Regions from separate parts of the Homo sapiens genome. Here region 2 is linked to region 1. A link means that fine-mapping ties the variant in region 1 to the expression of a gene that starts in the linked region. Tissue or cell type: monocytes. Region 1 holds a variant in brackets; the other region holds the start of a gene. All regions are shown on one strand. Distances are between the middles of the regions.

Region 1 (8,104 bases):
TATTTTAGAGATGGGGTCTCGCTCTGTCATCTAGGCTGGAGAGCAGTGGTGCAATCATAGCTCACTATAGCCTTGAACTCCTGGGCTCAAGTGATCCCCCCACCTCAGTCTCCCCAGTAGCTGGGACTACAAGCACGAGCCACTACGCTCAGCTAACTTTGTTTCTTCTGCAGACCCTGAGGTCTCGCAATGTTGCCCAGGCTGGTCTCAAACTCCTAGCCTCAAGTGTTCCTCCCGCCTCAGCCTCCCAAGTAGCTGGGACTACAGGCATGTACCACCATGCTTGCCAGCTTCCCTAATTTTTATCCCTGTTTCTAAGAGACAACAAACCAGAGAAAGCCACATATGTACTTCTAACCAATCACATAGGACGCCCCACTTCTGGTTAGCTGTCTCCACCTTGCCCTGGCCAGCAGCCTCCACTCAGGCACACCTGAAGCCTCCCCACTCCTCTGCCTTCCTGGAGTCTCTGCTAAACCCAAGTGGAGGCTGCCTCTCTTGCTGGAGCAAGCTCTAAATAAGCAGCTGCTGCCTGTTCTGCTGCCTGGTCTCCGTTTATGTTCACACTTTATCCGTGGAGGACTCAATTTGGTGCCCATTCTGGGCTAAGCAGGGGCTAAGAAGTGGCTGGTATGAAGGCGGCTGACTGCAGTCGCTCTGACAGGCGCACGCCCTTCCCTTTCCCCACTCACTACAGTCTGAAGCAGACAACAGCCTCCAACATTCTCCCGGTGTCCCCTCTAGCCTTCTCCATCTGTCTGTCCTCCACATGCAGCTGAGTGGAGCCAGGTCCCAGCACTCAGCCTGGAAGATGTCTGGGGCTCCATCCCCTGACCTATGTTGCCACCTGCCTTTCTGTCCCCCACTCCCCCACACCAAGCTCCTCCCCATCTCAGCCCCTTCACTCATGCTGCCTTCCCTTTGGAAAGCGTCTCCCGCATATCTCTGCAGGGCTGCCCCTCATCACCCGAGCATCGCCACATATGGCAGCTCCACAGAAAGGTTTGAACAGAGGCCCTGGCCAAAGCCACACCCCAGGCCCGCTCTACCGAGGGACTCAATGCTTCCTTCCAGCACTTAGCACCCCAAACTACCACACTGTCTGCCTCCGAGTTACGGTCTTTCTCTTTCTAAGCAGAATGCCAGCTCCCTGAAGGCTGGGATCTGCTCATCCTATTCACCACAGCAGCCCAACATTCAGCTGACACTCAAGACGTATCCGTCCACGAACCGAGGAAGATGTGTGGTACAAGTGGTGACCATGCTTTGTGAATTTTCTAGGAAAACCCCAAGAGAATTCAGCCCTGTGGTCTATAAAATAATTCCTATCACACTATCATACCAGCACCATGGGTCTTCTGATAGTCACCCCCCACCACTCACCCCCAGCAATTGGGATTAGATGGCAAGTTAAGGGGCAGAAAAGGAAGGAAGAGGCAGTGGTGAGCATGAAGTGAACGTGTGCCCACAAGCACTCTGTGCCAGGCGCTGAACATACATTCCCTTGCTTAATCCTCAAGACTCTTCCATGAAATGAATGTGATGTCCCTTATAACACAGAAAGCTGAGACTCAGAAAAGTAAAAGAACTTTCCCCAGACCCTGGAAGAAACAGGACTTGAATTCATGCCTTTGAAAAATGGCTTCCCTGTTCCAGCCAGCGGGGTCTGTGGTAATCCCACTGAATCCATTCCCAGTACTTCCACGCATCAGCACATAACCTCTCTCATGTCTGGGATCCAGTTCAAAATGCATTCCCAAACACATGATGTGTGTGCTTAGGGGAGCGTGAAGCGCACAGAAATCCTGGCTCAGCAACTCCATGCTGGCCTGAAAGGGCTGCGGTGGAGCAGTCCAGCCTGGACTCCCAGGCTGCAGACATGAAGAACGGGCAGGACTTGGACACATCTAGGCCAGCAAGAGCCAGAGACACAAAAGCAACATCAATTTCCTTGTGGTTACAGAGCTTCTTGAACCCAAAGATTCCTGTCTAAGCACTTAATAACTGCCGGCTGTCAATTCTGTATGTTGAGAAATTCATCGAGTCACACGTTAGATGTTACTTTTCATACTCATTTTTTGCCACTTTTCAGTTATGATCCCAGACTTTATCTCCCTTGATTAACTGAAAGGCAGACCGGCTCTGACAGTGGTATGCTGATTAACTGTTCATCATTGCCAAAGGGGAGATCTATAAATGAAATCACTAAAAACAGAAGGAAAATGTACTTGGAGCCAGCTTCTAATTATGACTGAGTCTTCCTTGGAAAGAGAAGGTGCTTACAAATAGGACTACAGACAGGATGGAATACTAAACCAAAATGTCAACATCGCTGATTCACCATCAACGCACGTAGCCTGATGATGTACAGGAGTCCAGCGTGAGACGACGAAGCAGATACAGGCATGTCAATCAGCACGCTGGAAACAAACCCGGGATGAAGGCAGATAAGAGAGTTGACAAAAACAGAAAATCTTTATCAAACCCCAACGTGACCATGATACTTGACTCACTCATCTAGTTTTGACACATGTATTTCAGCGACCTGGTTTTTGCCCAAACATCAAATTATTTACTCTGCTCACTGAAGTATTTCTAAACCTAAATTTTTAAATCTAAAACTTCAGACATTTTTACCTAACTTGTCCTTAAAACAATAGATAATTTAAAACCTCATAAAAATTAACATTAAACATGATAATACAGTGTAATTAGTTCTAAAATGTTAGTGCTGGAGAGTATAGAACTGTACCTCACAGCAGTCTGGCAACCATAAAATAAGAATGAATCCAGGGAAGTATTTTAAAACTAATAGGTAAAAATGGGATGAAGAGTGGGATTATTTTTTGGAACAGGGTCTTGCTCTGTCACCCAGCTGGAGTGCACTGGCATGATCTTGGCTCACTGCCACCTCTGCCTCCCGGGTTCAAGGGATCCTCCCACCTCAGCCTCTGAGTACCTGTGATTACAGGCTCATGCCACCAGGCCCGACTAATTTTTTTATTTTATGTAGATACAGTGTTTCGCCATGTTGCCCAGGTTTGTCTCAAACTCCTGAGCTTGAGTGATCCACCTGCTGCAGCCTCCCAAACTGCTGGGATTACAGGCATCAGCTACTGCACCGGGCCAAGAATGAGATATTTACCTTGTCTCTAAGTACCTCCCTGCAATATACTTATTAATCACATAGAAAAAGAGTAATTGTACACTGGAGAAACCTGGCTGACCCCATCAACACCGTAGCCGACCTGGTAGGATGCAGAGAGAACACAACACCGCTTCCATATTATATCTGCAAAGTTAAAACTCCTAGATCTAATTAGGAGGAAGCTCCAGACAAACCTAAGCTGAGGAACATTCTACAAATAGCACATGTGGCTACTGAGCACTTAAAATGGGGCCAGTCTAAACTAAGTGTAAAATACATATTGGATTGCAAAGACATATTTCCATCACCCCCAATATGGTTTGGCTGTGTCCACCCAAATCTCATCTTGAATTGTAGTTCCCATAATCCAAACATGTCATGGGAGGGGCCTGGTGGGAGGGAATTGAATCATGGGGGCAGTTACCCTCATGCTATTCTTGTGACAGTGAGTGAGTTCTCAAGAGATCTGACAGTTTTATAAGGGTCTTTTCCCCTTTTGCTCAGCACTTCTCCTTCCTGCCTGCCACCATGTGAAGAAGGATGTGTTTGCTTCCCCTTCCACCATGACTGTAA[G/T]TTTCCTGAGGCCTCCCCAGCCATGCTGAACGGTGAGTCAATTAAACTTCTTCCCTTTATAAATTACCCAGTTTTGGGTATGTCTTTATTAGCAGCGCGAGAACGGACTAATACACTCACCAAGTTTCCTTGTGCCTCTTTGTAATCCCTCTCACCTACCCATCCTATCCCTCCTCTATGCCATCCCCATGCAACCACTGAACCATCCTGTCATTACAGTCAGGTACGCATTGTCTAGAATTTCACATAAATGCCTTCATATGGCCGGGCACAGTGGCTCACACCTGTAATCCCAGCACTTTGGGAGGCCGAGGTGGGCAGATCACGAGGTGAGGGGATCAATATCATCCTGGCTAACACAGTGAAACCCCATCTCTACCAGAAATACAAAAAAATTAGCCGGGCGTGGTGGCACACACCTGTAGTCCCAGCTACTCAGGAGGCTGAGGGAGGAGAATCGCTTGAACCTGGGAGGTGGAGGTTGCAGTGAGCGGAGATTGCGCCATTGCAATCCAGCCTGGGCGACAGAGCAAGACTCTGTCTCAAAAAAAAAAAAACAAAAAACAAAACAAAACAAAATTGCTTTATACTCTTTCACCTCACTTCTTCCACTCAGCAAAATCATTCTGATTCATTCATATTCTAGCATGTAGGAAGAGCTCACTTACTTTTATTGCTAAGTAGTATGGATTTATCACAGTCTGTTCATCTGTTCAACTGCAAATGGACAACTAGGTGTTCACATTTGGGGCCATTACAAATAAAGATACTCTATCTCTGCACAAGCCTTTGTGCGGGCATATAGCTTCATATCTCTTGAATAAATGCCTAAGAGAGGAATGGCTGAATCATAGGAAATTGCCACACTGTTTTCCTAAATGGCTGTCCCATTTTACATTCCCAACAGTAGTATATTAGAGTTCCAGTTCCTCCATGTTCTCACCAATACTTGCCTTGCAGAGTCTTCTTCATTTTAGCCATTTTAATACACATGCAGTGGTAGCTCACTGCGGTTTTAGTTTGCTTTTTTTTTTTTTTTTTTTTTTTGAGACAGAGTGTTGCTCTCTCCCCAGGCTGGAGTGCAGTGGCGTGATCTCAGCTCACTGCAACCTCCGCCTCCCGGGTTCAAGCAATTCTCCTGCCTCAGCCTCCCAAGTAGCTGGGACTACAGGCACCCGCCACCAAGCCTGGCTAATTTTTGTATTTTTAGTAGACACAGGGTTTCACCCTGTTGGTCAGGATGATCTCAATCTCCTGACCTCGTGATCCACCCACCTCGGCCTCCCAAACTGCTGGGATTACAGGTGTGAGCCACCATGCCTGGCCTGCATTTTTTAAATGTCTAATGATGTTGAGCATCTTTTCATGTGCTCATCTGCCATCTGTACAACCGATTTGCAGTGTTCAAATATTTTGCACACTTCTTACTGGGTTGTATGTTTTTCCTTTTCCTTTTCTTTTTTTGAGACAGGATCTCCCTCTGTCACCCAAGCTGAAGTGCAGTGGCACAATCTCAGCTCACTCCAACCTCTGCCTCCCAGGCTCAAGCAACCCTCCCACATCAGCCTCCCAAGTAGCTGAAACTACAGGTGCATGCCACCATGCCTGACTAATTTTTGTATTTTTTTGTAGAGACGGAGTTTTGTCATGTTGCCCAGGCTGGCCTCAAACTCCTGAGCTCAAGCAATCCACCGGCTTCAGCCTCCCAGAGTGCTGGGATTACAGGTGTGAGCCACCACGCCCAGCCGGGTTGAATGTTTTCTTATTTTTGAGCTTTGAGAATTCTCTATATATTCTGAATACAAGTCATTCATTAAATACATTATTTGCAAATATTTTCTCTTAGTATTTTGCTTGTCTTTTCAGTCTCTAAAGAGTATTTTTTAATGTAAATTTTTAATTGTGAAGTTCAATTTATCGATTCATTCTCTTATGGAGCATGCTTTTGGAGCCAAGAAATCTTGGACTAATCATAGGTCACAGAGGTTTTCTCCTATGTTTTCTTCTGGAAGTTTTATAGTTTCAGGTTTTACATTTAGGTCTATGACTCATTTTGAGATAATTTTTGTATTTGGTGCAAAGTATGGCTTGCAGTTCATTTTTTGATTATGGATATCCAATTATTCCAGCACTCATTTTGGAAAAGACTATTTCCACTAAATTACCTTTGCACTTCTGTCAAAAATCAGCTGTCCACCTATGTGTGGGTCTGTTATCTAGCTCTCTTATTTTTTTCCCTTCATCTGTTTGTCCATCATGACATGACTACCACACTGTCTTGATAGGACAGCCATACAGTAAGTCTTGAAATCAGGCAGGGTTCCTCAAGTTTGTCTTTTTCAAAATAGTTTTGGCTCTTCTAGGTCCTTTACATTTCCATGTGAATTTCAGAATCAGCTTGTTAATTTTTATAAAAAGCCTTGCTGGGATCTAACTGGGATTTCTTTGAATCTATAGATCAATTTGGGGAGAATTGATACCTTAACAATACTGAATTTCCCAGCCCATGAACATGCTATGTCTTTCCACTTATTTAAATCTCCTTTGACTTCTCTCAACAATGTTTTGTAGTTTTCAGTGTACGGGTCTAACACATTTTTGCCAGATCTATTCCTAAGCATTTCTTATTTTTAATGTTATTATAAATGGTGCTATTTTTACATTACCATTTCTGATTATCCATTGCCAGCATATAGAGAAACAATTGGTATTTGGATATTGATTTTGTATCCTACAACTTTACTAAACTCACTTATTAGTTCCAGAAGATTTTTTGTAGATTCCATCAGATTTTCTACACAGATGATCATGTTGTCTGTGAACTGACAGTTTTACTGTGTCGTCCTTTCTAATCCAGCTACCTTTTGTTTCTTTTTCTCGCCTCAGTACACTAGCTAGAACAAAAGTGGTGAGAACAGACATTCTTGTCTTTCTCCTGAGATTAGGGAAAAGTATTCAGTCTTTCACCATTAAGAGTGATGTTAGCTGTAGGTTTTACAGAGATCCCCTTTATCAGGTTAAGGAAGTTCCCTTCTTTTCTCACTTTGCTGAGGGTATTGTTTTTGTTTTTGTTTTTTAATCAGGAATAGCTGTTGGATTTTTTTTTTTTTTTAAACTCTGTGTAGAGGGCCAGGCGCGGTGGCTCATGCCTGTAATCCCAGCACTTTGGGAAGCCAAGCCAGGGAGATCACTTGAGGCCAGGAGTTCAAGACCAGCCTGGCCAACACGGTGAAACCCCACCTCTACTAAAAATAACAAAAATTCGTCGGGCGTGGTGGCACGTGCCTGTAATCCCAGCTACTCGGGAGGCGGAGGCAGGAGAACTGCTTAAACCCAGGAGGCGGAGGTTGTAGCGAGCTGAGATGGCACCACTGCACTCCAGCCTGGGAGGCTTTTTTGAGACTCTCTCTCAAAAATAAAATAAAATAATAAAATAAATGAAATTTATTTAATTTTAACTGTTTTTTTTTTTTTTTTGAGATGGAGTTTTGCTCTTGTTGCCCAGGCTGGGGTGCAATGCACGATACCAGCTCACTGCAACCTCTGCCTCCCGGATTCAAGCAATTCTCCTGCCTCGGCCTCCCGAGCAGCTGGGATTACAGGCATGCACCACCGTGCCCAGCTAATTTTGTATTTTTAGTAGAGACGGGGTTTCTCCATGTTGGTCAGGCTAGTCTCGAACTCCCGACCTCAGGTGATCTGCCCACCTCAGCCTCCCAAAGTGCTGGGATTACAGGCGTGAGCTACCGCGCCCAGCCTTAATTTTAATTATTTAAAATATATATATATATATATATATATATATATAAATATATATATATATATAAAACTCTGTAGAGTTCAGACTCCTCACTTGTGTTCTAAGTCTATTTATCCTATTTATCCCCTGCTACTTAGGATCCCTTAGCTTCCTATAAAAAACTTTCTGCTACATCACACCAGGGCAAACATGAGATTTTGTCAAATACTTTTTCTGTACCTATTGAGATAAACACAAGATTTTTCTTTTTTAGCTTAATATGGTGAATTACACTGATTTTCAAATATTAATACTAAATCAACCCTGCAAAATCAGGATAAACCCTACTTGGTTATGTCGTACCATCCTTTGTAAACACTGTTAGATTAGATTTGCCACAGTTGGGTTTAGCACGTTAACGTCTACGCTCATGAGGAGTCTTGTTTGGGGTTTTCTTTCCTCGCAATGTCTTTGTCTGGTTATGGTATCAGAATCATGCAGGTCTCATAGAATTAGTTGTAACATATTCTCTTCAATTTTACAGAAGAGTTTGGGTAGAAATGGTGTGAGTTCTTCCTCAAATGTTTGGGCCGGGCACTATTCCCAGTTCTGTGAATAGCTGGCATTGTTTTCTCTAATCCTTC
Region 2 (8,104 bases), 65 kb after region 1:
TGCAAGCTTATGTCCACCCAAAAACTTGCACATGAGTGTTGATAGCAGCTTTATTCATAATTGCCAAAAATTGGAAGCAACAAAGATGTCTTTCAATAGGTAGAATGGATAAACTGTGGTACATCCATACAATAGGGCACTATTCAGCCACAAAAGAAATGAGGTGTGAAGCCTGGAAAAGACATTGAGGAACCTGAAAAGCATATTGCTAAGTAAAAGAAGTCAGTATTAAGAGACTACATACTTTCTGATTTCAATTACGTGACATTCTGAAAAAGGCAAAACTATGGAGACAGTAAAAAAATCAGTGGTTTCCAGAATCCAGGAAGAATAGGTAGAGAATTGGGGATTTTTAGGGAAGTAAAACTATTCTTTATTTTTTTCTTTTTTTTTTTAGAGACAGGGTCTCATTCTGTTGCCCAGGCTGGAGTGCAGTGGCATGATCATAGTTCACTGCAGCCTCGAACTCCTGGGCTCAAGGGATCCTCCTGCCTCAGCCTCTGAGTAGCTGGGACTACAGTGCACCACCATGCCTGGCCTGTTTTTTGTTGTTGTTGTTTGTTTGTGTTTTTTGGTAGAGACCGGGTCTTGCTATGTTGCCCAGGCTGGGAAACTATTCTTTTTGTTGCTACATGTGTGGATCCATGGCATTATACATTGTTAAGACCCAGAACTTGGCTGGGTGCATTGGCTCATGCCTGTAATCCCAACACTTTGGGAGGCCGAGGCTGGTGGATCACTTGAGGTCAGGAGTTCAAAACCAGCTTGGCCAGTATGGGGAAACTCCGTCTCTACTAAAAATACAAAAATTAGCCAGGCGTGCACCTGTAGTCCCAGCTACTTGGAAGGCTGAGGAGTGAGAATCGCTTGAACCTGGGAGGCACAGGTTGCAGTGAGTTGAGATCACGCCACTGTACCCCAGCCTGGGTGACAGAACAAGACTCTGTCTCAAAGAAAAAAAAAAGACTCAGAACTGTGCTGCAGAGGTTAGGCACAGTGGCTCATGCTTGTAATCCCAGCACTTTAGGAGGCTGAGATGGAAGGATAACTTCAGCTTAGGAGTCTGAGACCAGCTTGGGCAATGTAGCAAGACTGTCTCTAAAAGTATAAAAAAAAAAAAGCCTAGTGTGGTGGCATGTTCTTGTAGCCCAAGCTACTCAGAAGGCAGAAGCAGGAGGATCCCCTGAGTCCAGGAGTTCCAGGCTGCTCCAGCCTGGGCAACAGAGTGAGACCTTGTTTCCAAACAAGCAAACAAACACAAAACAAAACAAAACAAAACAAAACCCCGAGAAACAGTGAAACAATGTATGCTATGGACTTTAGTTTATAATAATGTATCAGCATTATAAGGAAGGCACTACACACTAATGCAAGATGTTGATAAAAGAGGAAATTTTGCATGGGGGAGAGGGATGTATGGGAACTCTCAGTACTATCGGCTCAATTTTTCCATAATCTACAATGGTTCTAAAAAATAAACTCTATTAGTTTTAAAGACCGAAAGGCTTGGAAACAAGTAAGCGTGTTAGGATATAATGAGGATTGAGCTTATACTGAGGCAAGACTTGGGAACCCCTAGATGGGGGAACAGAGGTTTTACTATCTTGGTGCCTTTGGACCTGCTCCCAGGACTGACGGAGCAGTCACAGATAAAGTCTGGGCATCTTGGGCAGGAACTTGAACAGTGGGACTGTATGCAAGAAGACATTTATTATCTCTCTTGCACCCGAGAACAATGCCCTGTTTTCTTTAACTTTGTAATTTGACATAATTTCAGACTGGCGGGAAAGTTGGGAGAAGAGTACAAAGAATTCCCGAAGTCTCTTCCCCCAGATTTCCTGAATGTCTTAGCCTCTGACCACAGCTGTGCTTTCTTTGCCTGTCTTCTCAATGCCACGTTCATCTCCATTTCACAACCAAGCAACAGACCAAGGCAACAGGCTTCGACTTTGCTTCTTTCTCATTTTCATCCTGATAAGAACAGCAATTGACATTTTGAATGCCTAATCCACGCCAGGCACTATTCTAGGCACTGCGATACGTACCTTGCCATTTCACCATTTCATAGCCCTATGAGGTGGGTCTATTATTATCCCCATTTTACAGATGGGGAAACTGAAGCACAGGGAGGATGATCTACTTTGCCCAAAGTCACATAGTCAATACGTAGCAGAGTTGGTATGCCAATGCCGGCAGTCTAGAGGCAAGCGAGGAAACCGACGAAGGATGACTTGACTGGGAAAACAGGATGGGAGCCCAGTTTGGGAGTCCAGGAGGGGATATAGCCCAAGCCATACATTCCCAAAGGACTTCAAAGGTAGACTTTTGCTGTCGTCTCCCGATGACATGGGGCACAAACTCAGAAACACAGACAGGACAAAGGCAGCTTGCAGGGCTGAACTGCCTGGGATGAAGCATCAACCGTGTGGGTGTGCGGATGTGTGAGTAATGAGTGTGAGGGAGTATGAGTGTGGACGGGAGTGGAAGTCACACCTAATCCAGAGGATTCCTATTCCTCCTGAAACCCAAGCTTCCAGGAAAGCCCTTCCTGTGGCCTTCTCTCCCTAGTCCTCTTAGCGTCTGCCTGGGCTGCCCCCAGTACGGGGTTTATTACACTCAATTGCTTACATCTGTTCACTTCAATTGCTTACGTCTGCTCACTTGTCAGTGCCCCAACCAGGTCCTCAGGGCTAGGAAGCAGGGGCTGGATCTATTTCTTGCTCTCCCTAGCCCCCAGCTCACGACTTGGCATATGGAGGCATCCACAAACAGATGCCGAAGGATGGGAGTTTTTCCACACTCCCACGCCACCTCCAGGTATTTGCTCATGCTGTCCCTTCCACCTGCATGTTTTTCTGCATTGATTCAGGCACTGGTCAGAGGTCACCTCCTCCAGGAAGCCATCCCTGACCCCAGGGAACTGACTTATCTTTACTGTCACTTCCGGGGGTGGGTTGGTGGCTGTCTTGCTCACTTGGTTGTAAGGTCTCAGAGGGCAGGGATTGTGTCTGTTTCATGTCTTCAGGTCTGCGTCATCAGCGCTTGTCACAAGGTTAGACACACAGTAGGACCAAGACAGACCAAGTACATGAAAGAATGATTGACATATGGGCCAGGCGTGGTGGCTCACACCTGTAATCCCAGCACTTCGGGAGGCAGAGGCAGGCAGATCACCTGAGGTCAGGAGTTTGATACCAGCCTGGCCAACATAGTGAAACCTCATGTCTACTAAAAATACAAAAATGAGCCGGACGTGGTGGTGCACGCTTGTAATTCCAGCTACTCAGGAGGCTGAGGCAGGAGAATTGCTTGAACTCAGGAAGTGGAGGTTGCAGTGAGCTGAGATCACCCACTGCACTCCAGCCTAGGCAATGGAATGAGACCCCATCTTCAAAAAAAAAAAAAGAATGATTGACGTGCAGTGGCCCCTGCCCTGGGAAGCCAACCCTCACCCTCCACCACAGCACTTGATCCCATTGGGCAGTCCTTGGCTTCCACCCTCAAACTGAGAGCTCCTTGAGGGCAGCAGGGGGTCAAATTACTCTCTGGGTTCTCAGCACTGCCCAGTGTGAGTCCAAATATCTCCCACCTCCCCTGTCTCCGCTCTTTCCTCACTCAGGGCTCCACAGCCATGCCGGCCTTCAGCAATTCCTCCTGCAGGCTGAGCTGGTTCCCACAGGGCCTTTGCACTAGCTCTTCCCTCTCCCTACACAAGTCTTCCCCCATAGGCTCTTCAGAGTCTCAGCTCAAATGGCCTCTACTCAAAAAGCCTCTTCCAGACCACCTGCCCCACTGGTCTAAGAGGTCCCTACTTTCTTCTTGGGCCCTCCTGACCTGAAATACTTTGTTGAGTGTTTTCCCCCCAGTCATCTGGCTGCATCCGGGTTCTTATGGTGTCCAGACGTTAATGGTCTATGGGGCCTGTGTTCGAATCCCAGCTCCACCCCTGCTCCTGCTTACCTGCAGAGTGATTCTGAGTTTCTTTCTTTTCTTTTTTAAAATTTTATAAATGTCAATTTTTGTAGATAGGGGTCTCGCTAACAGGGTTGCCCAGGCTGGTCTCGAACTATGGGGTTCAAGTGATCCTCCCGCCTCAGCTTCCCAAAGTGCTGGGATTACAGGCATGAGCCACTTTGCCCAACCCATTTTGAATTTCTTAAGGACTCTGTGCCTCAGTTTCCTGATTTGTAAAACCGGTGATAGTATCACTCCCTTATAGGGTAGTTGCCAGGATTGAACGAGTTAACATTTGCAGTGCCCGACAGATTGTACTAGTTACTGATTGAAGGGCTGTTTTACTATCCAAATGTGGCTGGAGTAGGAGTTGGGTAAACATTTATTGAAGAATGTGCAACCACTCTCACTTGGAAGCCGGGCTGTTAGGAAGGGGAGGAGGATTCCAGTCGCCCAGCCCTCCCCCACCAAACGCAACTGCCCCGGCGCAAAAGAGGCCGCGGAGGCCAGGCAGGAGCAGGTCCTGGAGGCCTGGTCGGCGTGGGCGTTTTATTCCGAGACCAAGGGGATCCACTGCAGAGTTCTCCGCTGGGCGTGACCTCGGGCTACGGCGTGGGAGGAAGCGCGCGGCAAGACACCCAGCGAGGTGCTGGGGTCGCCCCCAGGAGAGGACGGCGGCTCGGACTGTCCGGCGGCGGCGGCGGGGACAGCGACAGGGGCGCGAGGTGGCCGGGACCCGGGCCGGGCGCGCCGGGCGGGGCGGCGCATGCAAATCTGCCGGGCGCCGGGGCGGGGAGCAGGAAGCCGGGGCGGGCTGGGTCTCCGCGCCCAGGAAAGCCCCGCGCGGCGCGGGCCAGGGAAGGGCCACCCAGGGGTCCCCCACTTCCCGCTTGGGCGCCCGGACGGCGAATGGAGCAGGGGCGCGCAGGTAGGATCCGGGGCCCGCGCGCGGATCGGGTTGCGAAGGTATCGCCCGGGCACGCCGGCTGAGGGCGTTCGGGAAGGGCTCGGCCGCCGGCGGGGACCACGGGGACCACCCCGACTCCGAGCGGGGCCCGAGCCCGCGACTCTCGGTGCGCGCGGAGCAGCGCCCGGTTCCGTCCTTGCCGCCGAACGGCAGCGGAGGCGCGAGGCCCGGGGTACGTGGACACCCAGCGCTCCCCAAAGCCGGTGCTGGCAGTGAGACCTCCGCCGGGACGGCCTGCGGGGGTGGGGGGCTTGGGGTTAGGCTGTCGGAGGCCACGCAGCCCCTCTTCTCCGGGCAGTGGCGCCCAGCCCTGCGCTCAGGAAGTCAGTGAGGACTTCGGAGAGAGAAAGGGTGGGGAAAGTTCTGAGAACTGTAAATTTGAGTAGTAGGTCAGTGAATCGGGGCGGTCTCCGCCTCCGAATATCAGATGGACCCAATAATCGCGATCATTGACTGGGACTTGTTTTACTGAAAGGATGCCAAGTGAAACCTCCCACTAACTTCTCTGTGGCCGGTGCTGTGCGTCATGGACATTGTACAGATGAGGTCACCAAGACCCCAGCCGCTTTAGTAACTTGCCCTAAGGTGCCGCCCACTTGGGAGTCCGTGGGGCAGCAGGACTAGAGCCCAGGCAATCCCACGCCAGAGCCAGCTGCTCTCCATCTCTCAATCACGTTTGAGGAGCCCCCACAATAACCAGAATCTCCGGGAGATTTGCTTAAAATGCAGATTCCCAGGTCCTTGCCCTGAGATTCAGATTCAGTAAACCCAGGAATCTGATCTTTATTTTATTTTTAAAAATTTATTTTATAAAGATGGTGTCTCACTATGTTGTCCAGGCTGGCCTCAAGTGATCCTCCCACCTCGGCCTCCCAAAATGCTGGGATGACAGGTGTGAGCCACTGAGCCCTGATTTTTTTTTTAAACAAAATCTGGATTTCTTAGACTTAAGCAAGATAGGGGACCACTAGTTTGTCTGCTTCTGGGGTTCAAGGAATGCCCCCAGGCCAGCGCTAACCCTGCTCCAGTTCTAGTCTCTCCCCTTCCCCAGCCCTCTGGGAGGCATGACCCACTGCACTTCCCTGCCCCCAGTAGCCTATGAGGAGCCCAAGGCATTTGCTGGGACCTCAGTGCCTTTATCAAAATCCCAAAGTCCAATGGGGAAACAGGCTCAGGTGTAGGTTTGGCCAGGGTGTCCTGCACATTAGGGCATTCCAGGGTCCTGCAGGGGTTTCTTAGAACTCGGCTAGCCCAGCCCATGAATGGGAGGTGACCTGCTAAGCCACTCATTCACTCACTAGCACTCATTCAGCTCCTGCGAGGCCCTGGGTGGTGTTCTGGGCACTGGTGCTTGCCTCAAGGAGCACCCCCTCTGCAGGAAGACAGACGTGAGGGCTGGGAGGGTGCGGATGCACCAGCGGCTGCAGGACCACAAGCCAGAGGGGATCAGCTCTTCAAAGGTCACTGGGCCAGGCTTCCCAGCACCCAGGGACCCTGAGCTAGCCTTGTGAGTAGAGCAGGGGAGTCTGGCAGGTAGAGGATGGGAGGTAAAGGGAGGCACAGAGTGGGCGGAGGCTGGGAAGTGTGAAAGGGCACTGTGTACAGAACCTAGGGAGTAAGCAGAAGCCAGAGATGGATGGAAAGTTGGGCTGGGCTGCATTGTGGAAAGCCTTGAATGCCATGCCAAGGAACTTGGGCCAGTGTATTCACCTTGGCTTGAGTTGTAAAAGCAACAATGCAGATTCCTGGGCCCCACCCTGGGCCTCTGGATCTGAATCTGGAGGGAGACGCTGGGGAGGCAGCAGGGAGGAAAACCTGCAGTCACTCACCCCATTTACAACACATGCAGTTACCGGCAGGTCCGAGATAACCTAAGGGTTTCCAAATGCTAGGAAGTGACTCAATGACTGATATGTTTAATACAATACAATCCCGGTTGCAAAATGCCCAGGGCAAGGGTGGGGGTGTTCAGTTTTCTAATGCTCCCAGTTCAAAAAGGAGCTGAAATGAATTGTCAAAGAAGTGACAAGCTGGGCGCAGTGACTCACACCTGTAATCCCAGCACTTTGGGAGGCTGAGAGAGGATCGCTTGAACCCAGGAGTTTGAGACCAGCCTGGGCAACATAGTGAGATCCTGTTCCTACAAAAAAAATTTAAAAACTTAGCCAGGCGTGGTAGCAGGTGCCTCTAGCCCCAGCTATTTGGGAGGCTGAGGTGGGAGGATGGCTTGAGCCCAGGTGGTCAAGGCTGCAGTGAACTATGATTGTGCCACTGCACTGTAGCCTGGGTGACAGAGCGAGACTCTGTCTCAAAATAAACAAATACATAAATACATGAGAAGAGAGAACCTTTTCTACCTCCCCCATCTCCCTGCCCTCTTCCACCCACCCCATCTGGGACGATGGAGGAGAGCGTTTGGGATTAGATGCCCCACCTCTCGACTGCCCTCACTGGTACCTGGGAGTGAGGCCAGGACAGAAGCCGCCTAAGTACTGTTCTTCCTCACATTTGTAAAAGTGAACTTTCTTGAGGGTTGATGACATGTTTTATAAGCTACTTCACACAATGTCCAACACCCAGTGGGTCCACAATCAATGTATATGTCTGTTGTTACCTGTCAAAACGTATAGCTGGGGAGTGACAGTATGGACTTGAGCCAGATCACCCAGTGCAAATGCTGGCTTTGCTGCTTACTGTGTAACTGACTTCCCAGAGCCTCAGTTTCTGCATTTATGAGATTATAGTGACTATGCCATTGTAGTGATGACTAAATGAGTTAATATATGTCAAGCATACAAAACAGTACCTGGTATGTAGTACAAACTATGTATTTGTTAAATGAATACCTTTTTTTTTTTTTTAGAGCCATGGTCTCTCTCTATTTCCCAGGCTGGAGCACAGTGGCACAATCATAGCTCACTGTAGCATCCAATACCTGGGTTCAAGTAATCCTTCCACCTCAGCCTCCTGAGTAGCTGGGACTACAGGTGTGTGCCACCACGGCTGGCTAATTGTTTTTATATTTTTAGAGACAGGATCTTGCTATGTTGCCTAGGCTAGTCTTGAACTGCTGGTCTCAAGCAGTCCTCCTGCCTCAGCCTCCTAAAGTGTTGGATTTATAGATGCGAGCAAACGTGCCTGGCCTAAATGAATAAATCTTTACTGTTGCCTCCTTTGAGCTTT

Evidence for each region. PIP is the estimated chance that this variant, and not a neighbour inherited with it, causes the effect.
Region 2: it holds the start of IL4R, and the variant in region 1 is fine-mapped to the expression of IL4R in monocytes (Quach 2016, PIP 0.95).

What each region holds. Positions count from the first base shown.
Region 1 is chr16:27,243,662-27,251,765 of GRCh38, forward strand. The region is part of intron 2 of NSMCE1 (NSE1 component of SMC5/6 complex); the gene reads right to left. Among named protein-coding and RNA genes, the nearest start is that of NSMCE1-DT, 20 kb to the right of the region's middle. The variant G/T (reference allele first, on the strand shown) is at 3,722.
Region 2 is chr16:27,309,139-27,317,242 of GRCh38, forward strand. IL4R (interleukin 4 receptor) reads left to right here and starts at 4,836. Exons shown (of 11, transcript NM_000418.4): 1 at 4,836-4,882. RefSeq lists enhancers at 2,027-3,226, 4,049-4,779 and silencers at 4,557-4,856, 4,877-5,086, 5,527-5,576.